2 separate regions of the Homo sapiens genome follow, and region 1 is linked to region 2. Evidence: fine-mapped expression QTL. Tissue or cell type: whole blood. Region 2 holds a variant in brackets; the other region holds the start of a gene. All regions are shown on one strand. Distances are from middle to middle.

Region 1 (5,851 bases), 56 kb before region 2:
CCAACATCAGGTGATCCGCCTGCCTCGGCCTCCCAAAGTACTGGGATTACAGGCGTGAGCCACCGTGCCCAGCCGGCAAAAACACATTATAAGTCCCCCAACCCATGGAATGGATCATTCCTCTCCACCAAGGGGATTTCAAAGAAACCTAAAAAACTAGTTCAGGCCATAATTGGAAGGATGGGGTGGGTCCTGCCTCATTACACCCTCCACCCCTTGGAAATGAGGCACAACTGACCAGCGTTAACATTACAAAGGACTTTTTTTTTTTTTTGAGACGGAATCTTGTTCTGTTGCCCAGGCTGGAGTGGGAGTGCAGTGGTGCGATCTTGGCTCACTGCAATCTCTGCCTCCTGGGTTCAAGCGATTCCCCTGCTTCAGCCTCCCGAGTAGCCTCAGCTGTACACAGGTGCACACCACCACACCCAGGTAATTTTTTTTGTTTTTGAGACAGACTTTCACTCTTGTTGCCCAGGCTGGAGTGCAATGGTGCGGTATCAGCTCACTGCAACCTTCACCTCCTGGGTTCCAGCGATTCTCCTGCCTTAACCTCCTGCGTAGCTGGGATTACAGGCATGCGCCACCACGCCTGACTGATTTTTTGTATTTTTAGTAGAGACGGAGTTTCTCCCTGTCAGTCACGCTGGTCTCGAACTCCCGACCTCAGGTGATCTGCCCGCCTCAGCCTCCCAAAGTGCTAGGATTACAGGCGTGAGCCACTGCTCTTGGCCTAATTTTTGTATTTTTAGTAGAGATGGGGTTTTGCCATGCCGACCAGGCTGGTCTCAACCTCCTGACCTCAAGTGATAAGACCACCTTGGCCTCCTAAAGTGCTGGAATTACATGCGTAAGCCACCATGCCAGGCCACCTTTGCAGGTCTTTTCCTGATCCTGAGGGTCTAGGAATTTTTAACGGTCTGAATAAACAATATTTGCGAAAACATTTGCCATCTATTACCTGTAAGGGTGGTCATCTATGAGACTTCCTCTACATAATAAGAACCTTGGTCTTCACAACCTGTTTTTTGTTTGTTTGTTTGTTTGTTTGTTTTGAGACAGGGTGTGGCTCTCTTGCCCAAGCTGGAGTTCAATGGCACGAACTTGGCTCACTGCAACCTCTCCCTCCTGGGCTTAAGCAATCCACCCACCTCAGCCTCCCTTGTAGCTGGGATTACAGGCCTCCGCCACCACATCCGGTACAGGTATGTTTGGTACAGACAGGGTCTCACCATGTTGCCCACGCTGCTCTCCAACTCCTGACCTCAAGCAATTCGCCCACCTCGGCATCCCAAAGTGTTGGGATTACAGGTGTGAGTCACCGTGCTCGTGCCCACAACCCCTTATCTTCACCCAGACACTCTTTTTATTGATTCCAGGTCTGTATAACTCAACTCTTTTTTTTCTTTTTTTTGTTTTCTTTTTTTTTTTTTTTTGAGACGGAGTCACAGCTCTGTCGCCCAGGCTGCAGTGCAAGTGGCACGATCTCGGCTCACTGCAACCGCAGCCTCCCGGGTTCACGCTATTCTTCCGCCTCAGCCTCCCCAGGAGCTGGGACTACAGGCACGTGCCACCTTGCCCAGCTAATTTTTTGTATCTTAGTAGAGATGATGGGTTTTCACCATGTTGGCCAGGCTGGTCTCGGACTCCTGACCGCAGGCAGTCCGCCCACCTCAGCCTCCCAAAGTGCTAGGATTACAGGCGTGAGCCACCGCGCCCAACCAGAACTCAACTCTTTTAACCAATTGCCAATCAGAAAGTATCTGAATCCACCTATGACCTCTAAGTATTTCACCCTTTGAGTTGTCCTGCCTTTCCACACGGAACCAACCTATGTCTTACATGCATTGACTGATGTCTTATGTCTCTCTAAAATGTATAAAACCAAGCAAGCTGTAACCCAAGCACCTTGGGCCAAGTTCTCAGGACCTTTTGAGACTGTGCCTCCCTCCATGCACACTCATATTTGGCTCAGAATAACCTTCTAAATACTTTAGAGTTTGACTCTTCTCGACAAGGACAAGAGAAGTGGAATAAACGAATAACCGCAGTTTTCCTGGTGGTATTGGTCACTGGGTTCAGGTTTTGGAGTAGTAGCCAGTCAAGCCTGGAATCCCCTTCCTCATTCGCTTTAGCTTTTTGTCCAGTCTTGGTTTGCAAGAGACTTGCAGCGGCCTAGACGGATGGCCGGGATTCACAAAGGTCGCAGACACGGGAACTGCTTCTTCCCCAGCGTCGCCTCCACACCCTCGCGTGGATACTGACATCCGCCCCATTCCAGGAATGCGCACAGCTAGGCGCAGCCGGCCAGCGTGGGCCGGGGGCGGCGGGGCCACCTCCCCCACCTCCGCGCGCAAGGCCCGTCGCCCTTGACAACGCGATCCAAGGTCACGGAGGTCCCACCCCCAGGCCCGACCGTCCACGAGACGGGTAGTACCCCGCCACGCGCCCGAGCAGGCAGCTGCCCGGACAGCCCGGCGCCCGCCGTGACGTCACCGCCCCGCGCCCGAGGAAGCCCCGCCCCGCGCAGCCCCGTCCCGCCCCTTCCCATCGTGTACGGTCCCGCGTGGCTGCGCGCGGCGCTCTGGGAGTACGACATGGCGCGCGAGCTGCGGGCGCTGCTGCTGTGGGGCCGCCGCCTGCGGCCTTTGCTGCGGGCGCCGGCGCTGGCGGCCGTGCCGGGAGGTGAGGGCGTCCTGGCTGGACGGGCAGCGGGCGGGCCGGGCCACGGAGACGGCAGGGACGTCCCTGTGCTCCGGGGAGCGAGGCGCCGGCACCTGCTTCACAGGCGTGGGAGGTCCGGCGAGGCCAAGCGCGGCAGACGCGTTTACTTTCGCTCCGCTCCTCGCCAGCTCCAGCTTGGCTGCCTTTTCCTCGGCTGGACTCCCCTCGCCACCCGCCCATGGGAGCCCTGAAGGAGGCTGGGTCTTGGGGGGTCGCGGGGTCGGGCGGAGCGGCTGCGGGGTCGTCCCTCCTGGAGCTTCGGTCCAGTCAGGTAGCGCACGTGCAGGTGGAGCCGCTGCGGAGCGCGGAGTCTTTGCGGGTGCATGTTGCGGGGAATGGACTCACTCGGGGTGATCGTGCTAGTTCCATGGATCGTGCTTTACCCCTCCCCGCCTCCCAGTAGCGCACTGAGGGTTCATTTGTTAATTCGTTCATTGGACGCACATGTGAGCGCCCGCTCAGTGCCCGGCGCCGTGCAGGTTCTGGGGACGCCACAGTGAACAAAACCTATAGCAGTCATCCGGGTCCCCAGAGCAGGTGGACTCGATGTCGTTGACGCAGCTGTGTCCTCGGGGCCTGGAATTGATGGATGCGCCAATAAATGTTTGTAAAACAGAGAGAACGACCCTAACCTCTGCTTTCCCAGTCCCCACTCGGAGGTAACAACAGTGAAAGTTTCGGCATTGCTTCGGGGCTGTACACAGTGTTATACGTGTAAATATAAATGTCTGCGTATAAGTATTTTTTATTCTAAAAAGCCTAAACCATGTATGCATTGTGCTACGTTGTACTTCAGAAAATTTTAACGCTCCCAGCATTCTTTCCACATCTTTTCATGTCAGTGTATACAGGTCCATGTGCCTTCCAGTGACCACACAGTATTCTGTATGATGGACGTGTCATTTGTTTAAACATTGTCCTATTAGTGGACGCAATAAAGGTTATTTCAGGTTTTACTTTTTATTACAATGCTGCATAGAATGGGTGAGTACTTAAATATTTGTTCACGTGCGGTATTTCTTTAGCCTTACATAATTAGAATTTTAGAATTGATATTTCAGAGCCTATGCATTTTTGAAATGTTAGCAGATACTGCCAAATTGTCCAAAAAGGCCTTATCAATTTATATCCCCTTTAGCAGGCATCAAGACTGCCTATTCCAAAGGTATTTTCTTCAACGCTGAATCTTATGTCTTTTCAAAACCAGTGGTCTATAAAAGATACCTTGTGGCCGGGCGCGGTGGCTCACGCCTGTAATCCTAGCACTTTGGGAGCCTGAGGTGGGCAGATCAGGAGTTCAAGACCAGCCTGGCCAACATGGTGAAACCCTGTCTCTACTAAAAATACAAAAATTAGCTGGGTGTGGTGGCGCGCGCCTGTAATCCCAGCTTCTTGGGAGGCTGAGGCAGGAGAATCGCTTGAACCCAGGAGGCAGAGATTGCAGTGAGCTGAGATTGCACCACTGCACTCCAGCCTGGGCGACAGAGTGAGACTTCATCTCAACAACAAAAATAATAATAATTTTCCCTCAGAAAGTGATGCTGTTGCTCTCTTCTAGCACCAGTGTCTGATCAATTATTTATTTATTTTTTTGTCTTTATGAGGTGGGGTTTCACTATGTTGGCCAGGCTGGTCTCCAGTGCCTGACCTCAAGTGATCTGCCTGCCTTGCCCTCCAAAATGCTGGGATTGCAGGCGTGTGTCACCGTGCCTGGCCAACTGTTCTGTTAATTTGGTTCTCGTTTCTTTTGTAGCTGACTCGGGTTTTTTCCCCCTTGGAGGTTAAGATTTTTTCTCTTTGTCGTTTGTGGTCTCGCGTCCACAGGTGTTTGTGATTCATGCTTTGTATCATGCACTGTCCCTTCCATTTGGAAAATATGTCAGTTTTCAGCCCAGGGACATTTTAATTCTGTTTCTTTATCTCTTTTTCTTTTTCTTTTTTTTTGAGATGGAGTCTTGCTCTGTCACCCAGGCTGGAGTGCAGTGGCGCGATCTTGGCTCACTGCAAGCTCCGCCTCCCGGGTTCAGGCCATTCTCCTGCCTCAGCCTCCCGAGTAGCTGGGACTTTAGGCGCCCACCACCATGCCTGGCTAATTTTTTGTATTTTTAGTAGAGACGGGGTTTCACCCTGTTAGCCAGGATGGTCTCGATCTCCTGACCTCGTGATCCGCCCACTTCGGCCTCCCAAAGTGCTGGGATTACAAGCGTGAGCCGCTGTGCCCAGCCCTTTATCTCTTTTTCTTAAAAATTGTCTCTCTCCTCTCGTCCTCCATCTTCTGGTGCGGTGGTTCAAGCATTCCTCTGCCTGAGTCTAAGAAATGGAACATGTTCTTGGCAGCCTTCTGCGTGGCAGGTGCCCTTGTCATTGTCACCTGTGTGGATGAATGGGAAGGTAAATTGTTTGGATTGATTGAACGATGAGAGAATTTAGCTAAGAAAATACATGTCTTGTGCAACAGGGGAGAAAGAATAGTTTAGGCAGATCCACCTATGTAGAAAATCCAGACCTCTTGAAATTTTTTTCTTTTCTTGGGAAAGTATTTCCAGGTTGTAGCATGTGCCTGGCTTCAGGTGTGCGTGTCTTATGTCTGTGGAATCCTCTCGCCCATGCTACGCTGCCTCAGTCACCCATGAGCTCAGCCCTCTTACCCTTTCAGACCTCACTGACCCCTGACACTGCCAGCCCTGTCACTTGCCCTCAGAATATCTTATTTGATTTTTTTTGAGCCGGAGTCTTGCTCTGTTGCCCAGGCTGGAGTGCAGTGGTGCAACCTCAGCTCACCACACCCTCCGCCTCCTGGGTTCGAGTGATTCTCCTGACTTCGCCTCCCACGTAGCTGGGACTACAGGCGCATGCCACCACACCCAGCTAGGTTTTGTATTTTTAATAGAGATGGGGTTTCACTATGCTGGCCAGGGTGGTCTCGAACTCCTGACCTCATGATCCACTAGCCTTGGCCTCCCAAAATGCTGGGATTACAGGCGTGAGCCACTGCGCCTGGCCTACCCTCAGAATATTTCTGTGAGGGGTGGGCTAGGATATCCGCTTGTGGACTTTATATTTGTCATTTTTGCCCATAACAGTTTATTCAGCAAATACATTTCCAATGCCCCCGAGTCGTCAAAGAAAA
Region 2 (5,425 bases):
TGAGCTCACCCTGCTGCACCTTCGTGAGTTTGACAAGAAGAAGCTGATCTCTGTGGAGACGGACATAGTCGTGGATCACTACAAGGAGGAGAAGTTTGAGGACAGGTCCCCAGGTCGGCATCCCCTGCTCTCTAGGCGTGGGGCTGGTTTCCACTCCCCGCACGCCTCTCCTGCCCCGCAGCGAGGGCTTCCTTTGGGTTTTCGTCAGTTGACCTGGGCTCAGCCACCCCCGAGAAGAGCCTTGTGGGAGCACCCTGGTGACTGGAGGAAGGTGCCTCCTGGTTTAGATATCAGGGGTCTGTCCAGTGCTCCTGCCACGGTGGCTTCTGGAGCTGGCCCAGCTTCTTGAGAGGCTGTGTATTTTTTTAAAGCCCTAACCAAGTTGTATGGGCCTCAGGCAACCTGAAGCATCCTTTGAGGTTTTACTTTTAGATGAAAAGCATCTTGCTAGCTTGTGTCTCCATCCTGGTGGGAGAGGAGGTGGGAGCTGGAAGCATGCTGCGTGGCCCCCATGGAAGCCGGGGAGTTGGGATGCAGGCCTGAGCTCCCTGTCGCCTGCTCTTCCGCAGCCGCCGAGTGCCTATCAGAGAAGGAGACGGAGGAGCTCATGGCCTGGATGAGAAATGTGCTGGGGTCGCGTGTCACCAACGTGAAGGTGAGGCTTTCCCGGGGATGGACCACCACTTGGCCGCAGTGTCCCTAACAGGCTGGCCAGCTGGTGGCTCCCAGTACCTGGCCCGTTGGGTGTCCTTCCAGCAGCAGCAGAAGCCCTTGGTGTCAGGTGGAGACCCTGTGGGTCCCTGCTCGGCACGTGTTGCTCGGGAGTGCCGCTGAGGCAGGAAGGCCGTGTCTTTCTCCCAGCCCTGCTCCAGAGCAGGTGTGAACTGAGAACTGAAAAACCAGCATCCTGAGTGGGAGCTGCAATGGCTGAGGACGTGGGGGTTCCAAACAAGGGACATGCTACCCCAGCCCTCAGGAGCTCACATGCTCACTTGGGTGCTTAGTCGGGGGTTTTGGGTGGGCTTCAGAGAGCTAAGACTCCCCCCACCAACCTGTCTAGCTCAGAGTGAGAAATGAGCGTCCCATGCATGGTCACTTGGAGGAAGGGGCCTCATGCAGGGTGGGCTGGCATGGAGCAGAGGACGATGGATTCGGGCAGCTCCTGGAGGCAGCAGCGGGGCACCAGGGTGGTGGAGCCCCTCGGGCACAGTATCTTTGCGTGGGGCATCAGCTCAGGGCCCACAAGTTAGTGGGTAATGGGGAGGGAGCAGCGCTGGTCCAGGGGAGTCCTTGAGACCCCGCCTGCTACCTCGTGGTCTGGGTGACCTTCACCCCTGGTAAGATCCTGCCAGCCCTCTCACATTGGGAACCTCTATCACCCTCAACCCCGGGCTTTGCTCACAGGTGACCCTCCGACTGGACACCCACCCTGCCATGGTCACCGTGCTGGAGATGGGGGCTGCCCGCCACTTCCTGCGCATGCAGCAGCTGGCCAAGACCCAGGAGGAGCGCGCACAGCTCCTGCAGCCCACGCTGGAGATCAACCCCAGGTGAGGCCACGCTCCTGGCTCTTCCAGCCTGTGGGATTCCCCAGAATCCTGTGTGTGGTGTTCTTTTGTTGTGGAATGTGACACAGAAGAAAAGTGCGTGAGGCCTGTGGACATGTGGGTAACTATAAGGAGCTGTATGCAGTTTAGGCTGCACCCATGTGAAATGGAACCTGGCCAGCCCCTTACCATCCCCAGGTGTCACCTGGGAGGTTAGCCACATCCCAGCCTGTGACCATGTCCTCGTTTTGCTTTATGGCTTTGCCACCTGTGCGTGTCCTGGACATGCTCAGTTTTGCCTGTTTTGAGCTTTGTACGTGGATCTTGGTGTTTGCTGAAGTCTCACGTTGCTCACTTGGCATGAGGGTTGCCCATGCAGAGGGGCTGCCACAAGTTCATTTTCATAGCCGAATAATGTCCGCTGCAGAAACCCACCTCGGCACAGCAGACTGCTCCGTTCTGCTCTGCTGGGCCTCCGGTGGTTCTTGGTCAGAAGTTGTGGAGAGCCAGGCTGCTCTGAGTATTCTTGTCCACGTGTCTGGGGCTTGTGTGGGTTTCTCTGTGGCCCCGGTGGTGGGAGCTGCTTCCAGGGTGCACCGAGAACCCCCCAGCCCTGACAGTGGCTGAGCCGTAAGATTTCCCTCGTTTCTTCCTGTTGTTCTTTATATGCCCTTTATCTGTTGTAAATGTCTTTTCACCTGCCTTTAGGTATCTTTTGAGTTTCTTTCTTTTTACAGTATCACTTCTTTGCACCCATGAATGTGATCTATTTAGGTCTTTAACATCCTTTGGTACCTTACATTCTCTGTAGGGTTCTGGTACCATTTTTAAAGAATTATTCTTTGATGTGTCTTATGGGGTATTTTAAAATTTCATTTTCTAACTTGTATATGAACTAACTTGTATATGAAGTTTCTTTTTTGGGGGAAATTTTGAATGTAGCAATTTTTTAAAAAATGAAGTTACATAAACATGTTACCAAAAATAGAAAACAGCAAAAAGGAAATCAAAATCCATAGACTTACCACCCCCCC[CA/A]CAATGTAGCCTAAGTAGTATTTTAATTTTTGAGACAGGGTCTCACTCTGTCCCCCAGGTTGGAGTGCAGTGGGGCAATCTCAGCTCACTGCAACTTCTACCTCCTGGCCTCAAACAATCCACCTGCCTTAGCCTCCCGAAGTGCTGGGATTACAAGTGTGGGCTACCACCCCCAGCCAGTTTTTGTTTTGTTCTTTAGTACATGTCTAGTTTTTTTCTTTTGTCATTTTACAACCATAACTTTTAAAATTATACTGGAGGCGAGGGAGATGCATCTTCCTAGCCATGGCACTCCTGGGGAAAGGCTGACTTGGCTTATGGCTGTCAGTGCACAGCAGCGCCAGTATGCAGAATGCCTGTGCCTCTGCTGGAGCAGCTCAGTGAGGCGGACACCAGGTCACTTTAACTAGTTTTGGTGGCAAACTAGTTTTGTGAGATAGCTGCAGAAGTGCTCGTTTCTGTCTGTTGCCACTTCACTTTTGGAGACAGGGTCTTGCTCTGTCACCTAGGCTGGAGTGTACCAGTGGCGCCATCAGAGCTCACTGCAGCCTTGGCCTCCCAAAGTGGTGGGATTACAGGCGAGAGCCACTGTGCCCAGCCAGCTTCACTTTCATTTGTTTTAAAATTTGGTGTTCTGTCCACATAGTTCAGAATTCAAAACTGCTTACAGGGGAAAATTTCCTCCTACCTGTGTCCCCAGTGCAGCCAGCATTAGGGCTTTTGTATTTCTGCAGAGATTATGTGCATTTGTGGGCAGCTGCGCCCGTGGGCTTCCAAGGGGGAACTTGCTGTGCAGTGGGTCCTTGCCTTGCTTTTCTCCCTTAGGGTAACTAGGTGACCTCCACATTAGCATATTAAGAATGTCCTTTTTTTCCAGCTACGTAGACTAGAAATGTGAGGATGTGCATTTGAAGTGTTTCCTCTGTTAGGTTGGGTGCGGTGCCTCACGCCTGTAATCCCAACATTTTGGGAGGCCTAGGCGGGTGGATCACTTGAGGTCAGGAGTTCGAGACCTCATCTCTACTAAAAATACAAAAACTAGCTGGGGGTGGTGGTGGGTGCCTGTAATCCCAGTTACTTGGGAGGCTGAGGCAAGAGAACCTCTTGAAACCAGGAGGCTGCGGTGAGCCAAGATCATGCCATTTCACTCTAGCTTGGGTGAAGGAGTGAGAGTCTATCTATCTATCTATCTATCTATCTATCTAAAAAAAAAAGTGTTTAAAGGGATGCAGTTAGGAAATGGAATGGCTGAGTCTCAGCATATCATCCACATGTGGTTTTCCCGACTCCAGTTGTCCTCTGGAGAGGTTGTACAAATTTACAGTTCCCCAGAGCCCTCGGTTTTATCAGACTTCTAAGTGAAAAATTATAATATTCATGTTAAGGTTAAATACTACATGATGCTTTTTCCTATGCAGAAAAAAATATTGTTCTGACGTCAAATATGTCAATCATTCTTTACTTTTTGGTTTGTGGTTTTGCTTGGAAAGGCTTTCCCCTTCTGAGATGATGAAACATTTCTTCCCTAGAATTGTGCTTGTCATCTTTGATCCCTCTGGAATTTACTCTGGTCTAAATGGTTTTCTGCATGGCTCCCAGTCATCCCAGTGCTGCTGGATGGAGTGATCTGTCTCCTCCCTCTTCTGTGAAATACTGTCCTCATCAGACACTCAGTGTCCACCCTCGTTACATGGAGTTGTTTGCCTTCCCCCTTTCCAGACCTAAACTGTTTTATTTACTAGAGCCCTATAATATGTTTCAACATGTGGGTCTTACTCCCTTCTCTTTTATTATTTATCTAGGAACCAAGGCATGTCTTCACGTACTAAGCTCCTTTTGTCCCTTTAGTGTATATTAATCTTGGAGTTTGGCTACCTTACAGCATTTTCTAATACTGACACTCCTGATTCTCTTGGGTTTTCTGGGTATATAATGATATTATCTATAAATGATCATTAACATACCTTATTTAAAAAACTACAGACAGTCTTACTGTGCTTCTTTAAATATCCTGATAATCCCAAAACATGAAGGGAGGGTCACAGCACGTGGTACTGAGCTGCTTTTTCTGGTGGGTTCTGTGTTGCAGGCACGCGCTCATCAAGAAGCTGAATCAGCTGCGCGCAAGCGAGCCTGGCCTGGCTCAGCTGCTGGTGGATCAGGTGAGTGCAGCAGCTTAGGATGACTGCAGGGACCCAGGCTACCAGCCCTGCCAGCCTGCCTTCAGGGTGGAACAGCGGTTTCCTCTAAAATCCTGTCTTTTTGTTTGTTTGTTTGTTTTTTGAGATGGAGTGTTGCTCTGTTGCCAGGCTGGAGTGCAGTGGCGCGATCTTGGCTCACTACAACCTCTGCCTCCCGGGTTCAAGCAATTCCCCTGCCTCAGCCTCCCGAGTAGCTGGGACTACAGGCATGCGCCTGGCTAATTTTGTATTTTAGTAGAGATGGGGTTTTCACCATCTTGGCCAGGATGGTCTCAATCTCCTGACCTCGTGAGCCACCGTGCCCAGCCAAATTCTGTTTTAAAAACGGAAAAATGGCCAGGCGTGGTGGCTCACGCCTGTAATCCCAGCACTTTGGGAGGCGGGGGGATCACCTGAGGTTGCAGTGAGCCGAGATCGTGCCTCTGCACTCCAGCCTCGGCAACAGTGAGACTCTGTCTCAAAAAAAAAAAAATGAAAAGGTGCCCCATGCCCCTCATAATGGGTTTCTCCTCTTGCCTTTCAGATATACGAGAACGCCATGATTGCTGCTGGACTTGTTGACGACCCTAGGGCCATGGTGGGCCGCTTGAATGAGCTGCTTGTCAAGGCCCTGGAGCGACACTGACAGCCAGGGGGCCAGAA

The links. PIP is the estimated chance that this variant, and not a neighbour inherited with it, causes the effect.
Region 1: it holds the start of TRAP1, and the variant in region 2 is fine-mapped to the expression of TRAP1 in whole blood (INTERVAL, PIP 0.94).

Annotation. Positions count from the first base shown.
Region 1 is chr16:3,714,252-3,720,102 of GRCh38, reverse strand. It overlaps TRAP1 (TNF receptor associated protein 1), which reads left to right and starts at 2,579. Exons shown (of 18, transcript NM_016292.3): 1 at 2,579-2,682. The coding sequence starts at 2,595. RefSeq lists silencers at 2,229-2,838, 2,859-2,978 and an enhancer at 5,833-5,851.
Region 2 is chr16:3,658,112-3,663,536 of GRCh38, reverse strand. It overlaps TRAP1 (TNF receptor associated protein 1), which reads left to right. Exons shown (of 18, transcript NM_016292.3): 14 at 1-113; 15 at 570-655; 16 at 1,405-1,550; 17 at 4,672-4,744; 18 at 5,307-5,425. The coding sequence ends at 5,408. It also overlaps a transcript of DNASE1 not described here. Among named protein-coding and RNA genes, the nearest start is that of DNASE1, 6.1 kb to the right of the region's middle. The variant CA/A (reference allele first, on the strand shown) is at 2,582.